2 separate regions of the Homo sapiens genome follow, and region 1 is linked to region 2. The links come from fine-mapping of genetic effects on gene expression. A gene starts in region 2. The other region holds a variant in brackets. All regions are shown on one strand. Distances are between the middles of the regions. Region 1 overlaps HK2 (hexokinase 2). Region 2 holds the start of HK2 (hexokinase 2).

Region 1 (5,372 bases), 23 kb after region 2:
CTGTAGGCCGTGGGAGCCGCTCTGTGGCTCACCTGTGCATGCTCTAACTGGGACGCCGGACGCCGTGTAGGCATGTGGGAGGGACAGTGTAGTGCAGATTGACCTAGATTTTTTTCTTGAGCCCCATGTAAAAAGTACTAGAAATCCAAATAGACTTGGACAAAGTATGGAGCGTCACAGTGCATATATATATATTTTTTTGAGACAGTTTCACTCTTGTTGCCCAGGCTGGCGTGCAATGATGCGATCTCGGCTCACCGCAACCTCCGCCTCCTGGGTTCAAGTGATTCTCCTGCCTCACCCTCTGGAGTAGCTGGGATTACAGGCATGTGCCACCAAGCCCGGCTAATTTTGTATTTTTAGTAGAGATGGGGTTTCTCATGTTGGTCAGGTTGGTCTCGAACTCCTGACCTCAGGTGATCCGCCCGCTTCAGCCTCCCAAAGTGCTAGGATTACAGCTACCGCGCCCGCTGCCACAGTGCATATTAAGGAATTAAAGGCTCAGAAGTCCTGCAATACAAACCTATTAAGCTTTGTTTAATCATCTTATTTGGATACAGAGTACTTTTTTTTGAGATGGAGTCTCGCTCTGTCACCCAGGCTAGAGCGCAGTGGCGTGATCTCCATTAGCCAGAATGGTCTATATCTTTTGACCTCGTACCCGCCCACCTCGGCCTCCCAAAGTGCTGGGATTACAGGCGTGGCTACCGCACCCAGCCCAGAATCCTTATTTTATGGTACACCACCCAGCAAGTGATTTAATCAGGCAGGGGAAAAAGGATCACGGTGGAGATTCAAGTTGGAAAGGTCCAGTGGATTAGGGCTAGGTCACTGAAGGCCTTGAATGCAAGCCTAAAACATTTAATCTCTGCAGTAGCATTGGGGAGTAAATGCAAGGTTTTGAGGGGTGTCTTGGTAATGTTACATCATTGGCAGTATAGGTAGAGTGGAGGGGGAGCGAGGCCCAGCTGGTAGAGCACAAGACATGGCTCTGGTGGGTGGGCAAAAAGAGTATTCAAGGGTGGGGCCCGGCTGTTGAGCCCAGCTGCCTGGGAATGGCAACATCCCAGAGAAGGGGACCGAACAAAGTTGTGTCAGAGCTTTTATTTAATCCTCATAATAGGTGCCTCCATTTTAGAGATGAGGTGCTTGTGAGGCCCATGACGGGTGGTGGGTGGGGGGTAGGTACTCACATCTAGAGGACAGGAGAGAGAACCCAAGGGGCAGCTGCCAGGGCAGAGGAAGAACCAGGAGGCACAGTGTCCAAGAATCTAAGGGGGACGAGATCTCCAGGAAGCTGGCAGGTCGCTGGTGAGGCATCTACAGGGGCGTTGTTGGGAGGGGAGTAGGGGCAGGGCGTGGGTCAGGGCTTGTTAATGCCACGCGCCTGTGCTGTTTCCAGCACATGTGTGTCCTTGAGGCTCATCTCCCTAAGTGCCTCTAGGGACCTGGTTCGTCTGAGACTGTATCGTTCCCAAAATAAGTAAGTGTTTGCTGAAGCCTTGGGACCCAGCCTGGACCCAGTGCTGAGGGTATGACCTTGCTTAGGATTGTTTCCTGAGTGTGTTTCTTGGCCCTTCAAAGAGCCCCTCGAGGTGAGGGGCCTCTTATCTCTTCCATGTCCTCTAGATTGGCATGTTTACCTACCACTCCCTCTGACTGGAAACCACACCCACTTCTGAGATTTTTATTTGACATTCAGATAAATGTACACACTCCGGAAGGCCAGGGCCTTGTCTTTATTTCACCCAGCACTAACACTAAGTAAGTACCCTAAATCTTTTCTAAATACATATGGGCTAAGGACTCTTTTGGGCACCTCAATGTATTAACTCATTTACTTTTCAAAAACCTTTATGGTAAGTACAAATTTTATCCACAATTTTTAGATGAGGAATTTGAGGTTCAAATGTCAAACAAGTTGTCCAAAATCCTACAGCCAGTGGGAGGCCGAGTTAGGAATCAAGCTTGTGTAAGCCAAAGTTCAGGCATCGGTACTGCACGTGATGTGTTATATGTGTTCATGTATGTGTTAGCCTGTGCACTTGGCGCTGGAGCACACTGCAAATGCTCAACTAAAATTTTTTTGGAACGGAGTTGGGACTGATTGTTTGGACTGTATTATAGGCAGGTGAATTAAGTTTGTTGGGGAGAACTAATTATGGGGCAAGCTTTCAAAATTCTCATTGCTTTCCTGAAGCTGGAGGCTCCAAGACCTCCCATGCACCTTGAAGCTTGCACTGTTTGCAGCACATACTGGAATGTCTTACTCACTGAAACAAAGGAAGTGGCCCCTGGAATAATGGAGACCAGATTGCAGGAAACCCACACCTAATCCCTCCCTCCGCATTTGCAGGGGGTCCATAGGTTAGCTCCTCACCTCCATACTCTCTGGGACTCAGCCTTTGCTTTTGTAAAGTAAAGAGGTTGGACCTAGCAGTTCTAGTCTGTTCTGCACATCTACTAGAACTATTGTGCTAGTCTATTCACACAAACACTTCTGAGATCCTGTAATGGGAGATAAACCCTTGGTGTTCATTGGATGGTGTCTTAGTTCATTTTTGTGTTGCTGTAAAGTGGGACATATGTATATATGACAACTCAGCAATTCCACTTCCAACTATATGCCCTGAACAGACTCCTGTATGAATCCAAGGAGACATGGCTGAATAATGTTCATTACAGTGTTGCTTAATCGCACCTATAATCCCAGCTACTCAGGAGGCCGAGGCAGAGAGAATCAATCACCTGAACCTGGGAGATGGAGGTTGCAGTGAGCCGAAGTTGCGCCACTGCACTCCAGCCTGGGTGACAGCATGAGACTCTGTCTCAAAAAACAAACAAAAATAGATAAATTTAAAAAAAATAAAGTGGTCAGCATCAGGGCTCTCAAGTTTTGCTTTGTCAGTTGGGGGTATGAGTTATGGAATATGGCAGTGAAAATAGGTGACTCCTAAGTTGATACAGACTATCAAAAATGAAAATTCTCTATTGTCAGCACCCCAGTGAAGTGCTGCGAGGAAAGGCCGAGGTGAAGTTGTGTTAGCGATTCCCCCCATGTGGTCGCACACAGCCTGGGTGCCTGCCGCTGCTGCTGGGGGTGAAGCTGCATCCCTCTCCCACAGAAGGCTCGAGGCCTTTTCTCCAGGGGCACCTGTTCAGTGCCACCTTTCTCAGAACATTCGTTTCTCAGCCCGTTCATGGCTAGTATTCTTTTCAAA[C/T]CTGAGAAACCAAACCCCAGATCTAGAGGGAGCCAATTTTTAAATCCATAGCTTTCTAACTTTTCTGGGCTATATCTTCACAGCAAGAAACACATGCATATAAATATTTATATGAAAGGAAATAAATTTGGGGACCAGAATTTATTCTTAAACATGATGAAGTTGGGTTTGTCTTCTATTCTTTAAGAAAGTTGCTAGTCAGAACCTGCTAAATGTTTTTCACTTTGCAGTTTGAAAGCCACTGCCTTAAATGATCCTTGGCCCAGTTTGATTCTAGATGAGCATTTCCTTTCTTGCTGGCACGAAATATGTAGTTTCAGGACAGTGTGGGGTGAGAGGTGAGAATCAGAATTATAGGTTCAAATGGGTTTGAATTCAAGCTGTGTGCTTCAGAGCGATTTATGATGTGATCCTCTATTTCCTCATTTGTGAAAAGGGGAAACTTCAGGGGGATCGGTTTTCTGAGAATTAAGGGAGAATCAGATATGTGACTTTCTCACATGTGTTACAAACACTCCTGCAGCCACAAACCACCACTGCAAAAGGCACTCTCATTGCCAAATTTACTAAGAAAAGGTGTGTAAGACTCCCAGGTTTTAATTTTGGAAGATTGGCATCAAGGGAGCAGGTGTGAGGGTTCATCCCCATCACCAGGGGCCCTGCATTTTGGAGTGAAGACCAGGCCCCAGCTCTTATACCAGCTCCAATTATCTAATTGTAATCAAAGTCCTATTAGAAAATGTGGAGAAACCAGAAAGTTTCAGGCCATTTATTTGTGGTGGAGGCCTCCCCATCACGGCTTATGGGCTCTTGTGTGAGAAGGCAGGGAATGTCAGTAGCCACTGAACCCCGTAGGGGTGAAATGTTCAAGGTAAATCGTGAAGTACCTGTGCTTCATAGGTTGTGTGGCCTACACAGTGTGAAGAAACACAGTTGGCATAATTAAAAGTGCAATAGACATAAACGGTCCAGGAATGTCTTACTCAATGACTGAATTTGGTGTCAGCCAGAATACATTAAAAATGGTCTCTATTTGTCGTTTTGCTTCTTTCCCAAACAGTTTTAAGAAGTTGAAAGAATTCTATAGTGGTCATCTATATTTTACTTGGTTTGCTTTATCAACCCCCCAATCCTTCTATCCATCAGTCCAGCTTGTTATAATTGATGCATTACAAAACATAAATTGCTGAGAAAGTATAGTAAATACTAATACTGAACTCTAGTTACTATGTATGCTGAAGTTTTAGGGTTCAGACGTATACTTACATAGTAACTAGAGTTCAATATTTGCTGTATTTTCTTGTGATGTAAGATCTAGATGAAGTGAAATAAATCTTAAGAGTATTATCTGATAAAAAAATAAATAGAAGGCCGGGCATGGTGTCTCATGCCTGCAATCCCAGCACTTTGGGAGGCTGAGGCGGGCAGATCACAAGGTCAGGAGATCGAGATCATCCTGGCTAACACGGTGAAACCCTGTCTCTACTAAAAATACAAAAAATTAGCCAGGCGTGGTGGCAGGCGGCTGAAGCAGGAAGAATGGTGTGAACCCGGGAGGCAGAGCATTCCAGCCTGGGCCACAGAGCGAGACTCCATCTCAAAAAAAAAGAGTATTATCTGATGAATTGACAAATACACCTGTTTAATACAACCTCCATCAGAAAAGGGAATGCTTATACACTGTTGGTGGGAATGTAAATAAGTACATCCTCTATGGAAAACAGTATGGAGATTTCTCAAAGAACTAAAAATAGAACTGCCATTCCATCCAGCAATCTCACTATTGAGTATCTACCCAAAGGAAAAGAAATCATACCAAAAAGATGCCTGCACTTGTATGTTTATCACAGCACCATTCACAATAGCAAAGATGTGGAGTCGATGCCCATCAATGGACAGATGATTGGATAAAGAAACTGTGGTATATATACATAATAGAATACTGTTCAGTCTTAAAATAGAATGAAATAATGTATTTTGCAGCATCATGGATGGAACTGGAGGCTGTTATTTTAAGTGAAACAGCTCCAAAACAGACAAATACCGCACGTTTTCACTTATAAGTGGGAGCTAAACAGTGTGTCCACATGGACATAGAAAGTGGAATGATAGACCATGGAGACTTGGAAGGGTGAGGGTAGGAGGGTGGGG
Region 2 (5,372 bases):
TAGCTGGGACTACAGGAGCCCGCCACCACGCCTAATTTTTTGTATTTTTTTTTTTTTTAGTAGAGATGGGGTTTCACCGTGTTAGCTAGGATGGTCTCGATCTCCTGACCTCGTGATCCGTCCACCTCAGCCTCCCAAAGTGCTGGGATTACAGGTGTGAGCCACCGCGCCCGGCATCCCTTGAATTCTTTACTGGGTGAAGCCAAAAATCTTCCCAGGCTAAGTCCAAATTTTGGGGCCTGCCTGCCCTGCATCATGAGGAGGTATCTGAGTGGAACGTCAATGAGGAGGAAGAATGAGTTGGAGACAGGCCTGGAGAAGAATATTCTAGATAGAAGGAAAAGGAAGAGCAAAGACCCTTGGGTGAGAAAGAGTTTGTATTTTTGAGGAAAGCATGCTAGTGTGAATGCCAAGCAGTATTCTGTGGGAAGATCTCAGGAGGTGTCTAAGGGCATGGAGATAAGTGGTCAGATGCACGGTCTGTTTTATAGGTGGAATTAACTGCTTGCTGATGGATTGACTGGCTGTGAGGGTGAGTGGCAAGAAGGAATCGAAGACGAGTTAGGGTGGATGGCGATGCCATTTGCTGAGACAACTGGGAAAGAAAAAGATTTGGGAAAAAAAGTTGAGTTCAGCTTTGGACATGTTAAGTGTGATATGCTAGTCACTTCAGTGGAGATGACAAATGGCAAGCTGGAGAAATAAGCCTGCAACTCCAGGAGAGGACCTCGCTGTAGATTTACTATGGTGAGTCATCAGCATGCATATGATATAACAGTCATGGGGCTAGGAAGTTAGTTTCTCCTCAGGGAGTTTGAAACTGTAACTAGTTCAGAGAAGAGGGTGGAGGGCAGCCCCGAATACCCCAGCATTTACCAATAGAGCAAACAGGGACTCAGGAGCCTGGGGAGTGAGGTTAGCCAGAAACCCTCAGAGTGGAGCACTGGTGCTCTTACTGAGAGAGGAAGGTGTGTCCAGATGGAGGATGTGATTAACTGTCCTCAACATCCCTGAGAGAAGGAGTAAGACAAGGGCAGGGAAGAGAAGAGAATGCAAGATTTGGCAACATGTAGGTCATTATGATGACTATGACAAAAGCAGTTTGAGCTCAATTCTGTGTGGAGTATAGGGAAGGAGGGTTGAGGACGTGCATTTAGAAGGGTACATAGTTCTCAAGAAGTTTTGCTGAGCACATCTGTAATCCCAGCTATTTGGGACGCTGAAGTGGGAGGACTGCTTGAGCCCAGGAGTTCAAGACCAGCCTGGGCAACATATCGAGTCCCTGCTTTAAAAAAAAAAAAAAGGAAGTTTTGCTGAGAGGCTAGATGGATTATGATTTTTGTTTATTTTTCCTGTTTATCCATATATTATTTTTCAACAATGAGTATTGATTACTTATATAATAATTTTAAGGCTGTACACATTGCAGACAGCACCCCACTGTTTGAAAAACTCCTCCTCAGTAGAACATGGCAGACCTTCATCTTCCTTCCCTGAACCTTTTCCAACCTTAGGCTTGCCATTCTCCACCAGTGCTAATGTCATGTCTCTTGAAATCTGTATTGAAGTCAGTATTTCATTCTTGCCAGTTTCCACTGTGTGTTTAAATTTGGAGTCTGGTGTCTAGCATTAGCTGGGGTTGGAGCTTCCACTCCTCTCAGCATTGGTAAGCCTCCTCACCCACCCCATCCCATGTCCAAGATCACCCAGTTACACACTTACCATCTACCCAGTTCATTCACATCATCAGTCCCAGAGCTGCAGAGATGCTCTTTTTCTACCTCCTACTTCTCTGGCTCTTAGAGAGGCAGCATGGGATAATGGGGCAAGCGAATAGGGCCTTAAAGTAGAGGGACAAGGGTTCTCTTCCCTATCTGCCACTTATTAGCTATGTGACCTCGTGTAAGTCTCTTTTCTTTTTGAGACAGGGTCTCCCTCTGTCACCTAGGCTGGAGTACAGTGGTATGATCATAGCTCACTGCAGCCTCGAACTCCTGGGCTCAAGCTATCCTTCCACCTTAGCCTTCTGAGCAGCAGGGACTACAGGCACATGCCACCATGTCCGGCTGATTTATTTATTTTTATTTGGGAAGATGGGGGTCTCACTATGTCGCCCAGGCTGGTCATGAACTCCTGGTCTCAAGCAACCCTCCAACCTTGGACTCCCAAAGTGCTGGGATTACAGGTGTGAGCCCTGGCCTTGCCTCAATTTCCTCATCTGTAAAACGGGGTTAGTGAAACTCACATCCTATCAGTGGTTTTGAGGATGGGCCGACTCTTGTATTGCCTGCTCTAGTACAATCAGCAGCTAAGGCGGCTCACTTTCCGGCCGTGCTACAATAGGTAAGAACTAGGATGCTTTAGACGTGTGACTGGGCAGTGGGAGCCCCTCACATGATCCCGAGATGCCAGACAGTGTCTCTCCGCACAGGGCGTGTGCTGGTCCAGAGGCCCGTTTTTCCAGTCGCCCCACACCCCGGGTCCGCGATCACGCTCCCCCCACCCATAGCCGAGCCTGACGCGGCGGTGGCTCATGCGCCTTTCCGTCCCAGCCTTTAGCCACGGACCACACGTCCCATCTCAGGCGCCCCGCCCCTCCCCCGCCCCCCGCCCCCGGCGCGCCTCCCCAGGCTGCCGGCTCCGGTGTCTGAGCGGCCGCGCCCGCGAGCCGTGAGCGATGATTGGCTGCGCCACGGCGGCGGGCGGTCCGTGGGCGCACACACCCTCCCCGCGCAGCCAATGGGCGTGCGCACGTCACTGATCCGGAGGCCCGCGGGCCGGCAGCCCCTCAATAAGCCACATTGTTGCATGAAACTCCGGCGCAGGAGTCCCGGGCTGCCGCTGGCAACATCGTGTCACCCAGCTAAGAAAATCCGCGGGCCCGAGCCACGCGCCTGTGAATCGGAGAGGTCCCACTGCCCGAGTGGAGCCGGGCTGAGATTCTTCTCAAGTTGAGCCTCAGTGATCCTGTGGCCGAAGTTAGCGCCTTGACGTGGGACAACCGGACACGTCGCCAGGAGAGAACTGAGGCGCCTTCTAGCAGTTGTGACGCCAAAATCACGTCTCCGGAGACCCGCGCCCTCCGCCAGCCGGGCGCACCCTCGCCGGTAGCCTTCTTTGTGCGCCGTCCGGACTCCCAGCTCCCGGCCCGGCAGCCGAGCCCCAGCACAAAGCAGTCGGACCGCGCCGCCCGCCTCCCCTCTCGCGTCTCCGCCTCGGTTTCCCAACTCTGCGCCGTCGGGCCGCGGCAGGATGATTGCCTCGCATCTGCTTGCCTACTTCTTCACGGAGCTCAACCATGACCAAGTGCAGAAGGTAAGTCAGCGCGGGCGGGGCGGCAGGCTGGGCTCTGGCAAAGTGGTCTGGCCTCCATCAGTCTCTTCCTCGACCCTGCGGGGACCCGCTTCCTCCCTACTCCGGGCCTGGGAGCGGAAAAAGTTTGGGCAGCCGGGACACTCCTGGGCGCCAGGAGCCACGTCCGCTAAGCACAGCCGGCGAGTGCGCGCGGGCGGGGAGCCGAGGTCGCGCTCCGCCGGGCGCCCTCCCTCCCTGAGCTCCGGCACGCGCTCACGCTCTCTCCCCCAGTCCCTTTTTCCCTGTTACTGGAGGGGCGGGTCACCCCGCAGGTAGTCAGGGATTGCTGCGCCCACGTGGGAGGGAGCCCCCTTCTGCAGCGCGAGTTCCGGCGAGAGCACGTGGAGAGAATCGTGGCTGCGGGAGGCTGCTCCGCTGCCGCGTGGGGCCGCCGGGGGCCGTCCGCGCTCGCGGACCGCGTGTAGGAGACGAGCGGTTCCCTTCTCCTTCCCCGCGGCCCTGCGGGGGTGGGCTCGAGGAGAAGCTGACCCGGGAAGGAGTAGGAAAGGGGCAGAGGAACTCCGCCCGCCGCGCCCCCTCCCCGGAACTGTGGCGCCCGGAACTGAGGCTCGGCGAGGGGCGTCCCCCATTAACCCCCGCCCCTCCAAATCAGCCTCGGGACCGCCCAGCCTCGTGTCCTCAGGATCTGCCTCTGAGTAAGGGGAGGACTTTGGTTGTTACTTTCTGGTTTGCCCTAAAAGTTACTCGGAGAGGCCAACGCGCCGCGTTCCTGGATTACTTGAGATTCTTGAGATTTATGTCCTTCCGAAAACGAGCTTTTTTTTCCTTAAGCCTCGACCTGTCTGTTCCCACCTGGCTCCGCAGCTCCCTATGGCTGAGCGCTCACCGCGGCCGGGTCATTTACATAAGAAAGAGCCTCAGGCCAAGCCGGGAAGCTCTCATTCCCCGCCTCGGGGTATGGGGGTGGGGATGGGGCCGGGGCCGGGGACGGGCAGGGCCAGGGGCGCGCTCAGAATTGAGTTTCTGAAATGCCCGGGATTAGGGGATTGGCTCCTGGCCCGGGCCTGGGCTACGATTTGAGGTAGGGGACAAGTTGGGAGGGGATTAGCTGGAGGGAGGTTGTTTTAAGAGCTGTGAGGCAACGGAGCGTTGCTCAGTTACATACTTGGAATTTCAATATCTGATGGGAACACATTTTTGGGAAAATGTCTTGCCATTACCGTTCTGTGCGACAACCTGCTCATATTCCCATTCTGGCGGTCCCGAGGGCATAGGAGGCATATTAATGTAGTGATGGCGCGTGAACCTCCAAGAAAAGCAGAAGTTACCCAGCCTCAAGTCTGGAGGAGCGAGCAGAGGCGGTTGATTTACTTGGGTTTTACTGTTTGTAAATGGCTGTTATTCTCTAATTCCTGGGATGTGGCTCTGCACCTTGATTCAGTTTACTTAAAAACGTGCCTTTGATTTGAGCTGGCAGGATCTTGGTAACTTCTCAACTTCTAAGAACTCTTGGGGAAGGCTATCATCTCTTGGCAAGTCCTAAAATACACAGTGGAGCGTCATTAATCTCAGGGAGTTCTCCTTTGGGTATTACCCCAGGACATTTGAATCCTTGCATAAATTTACTCTTCCTCAATCCAGAGGAGGGCACCAGGGTTGGAACCCCGTTGGAGTTATACCACTCTCAATCTTGGAATGGGGGTCATCTCTCTTCCCCCAGAGTGGAACGGGAATTAACCAGGGTATCTGGAAATGAGTTGTAATCTCTGTCTTGTGGTTTATTAACCATAGCACCCTGAGCCTCTTTGGACAGCCCGTTTCTCTTTGTGAAATGCAATAATAACAGTAGGCTTGTCCACTTTATGGAGTTGCGATTATTAAGCGCTGCAGTGTGCAACTGTCATTCCTGTAGGTTTTCTCTACCCTTGCAGCCACCTGTCAGTTTGAGAAGTGTCCCTGAAGACCCTTGGGTGTATTTCCTCTAAACTACCAATAGGGGCAGAATTGAATCAGGCCTTTAACTCAGTAATTGTCAGAACCTGGGATTTGACTCCCAG

What was found. PIP is the estimated chance that this variant, and not a neighbour inherited with it, causes the effect. A credible set is the group of variants that fine-mapping cannot tell apart.
Region 1: its variant is the best candidate, but not a certain one, in a credible set for the expression of HK2 in monocytes (BLUEPRINT, PIP 0.53).

What each region holds. Positions count from the first base shown.
Region 1 is chr2:74,854,815-74,860,186 of GRCh38, forward strand. The region is part of intron 2 of HK2 (hexokinase 2); the gene reads left to right. Among named protein-coding and RNA genes, the nearest start is that of HK2, 23 kb to the left of the region's middle. RefSeq lists an enhancer at 831-1,371. The variant C/T (reference allele first, on the strand shown) is at 3,222.
Region 2 is chr2:74,831,329-74,836,700 of GRCh38, forward strand. HK2 (hexokinase 2) reads left to right here and starts at 2,799. Exons shown (of 18, transcript NM_000189.5): 1 at 2,799-3,315. The coding sequence starts at 3,253. HK2-DT (HK2 divergent transcript) reads right to left here and starts at 2,659. Exons shown (of 1, transcript NR_185897.1): 1 at 1,327-2,659. RefSeq lists silencers at 2,291-2,360, 2,541-2,770, 3,691-3,940 and enhancers at 3,517-4,393, 4,171-4,240.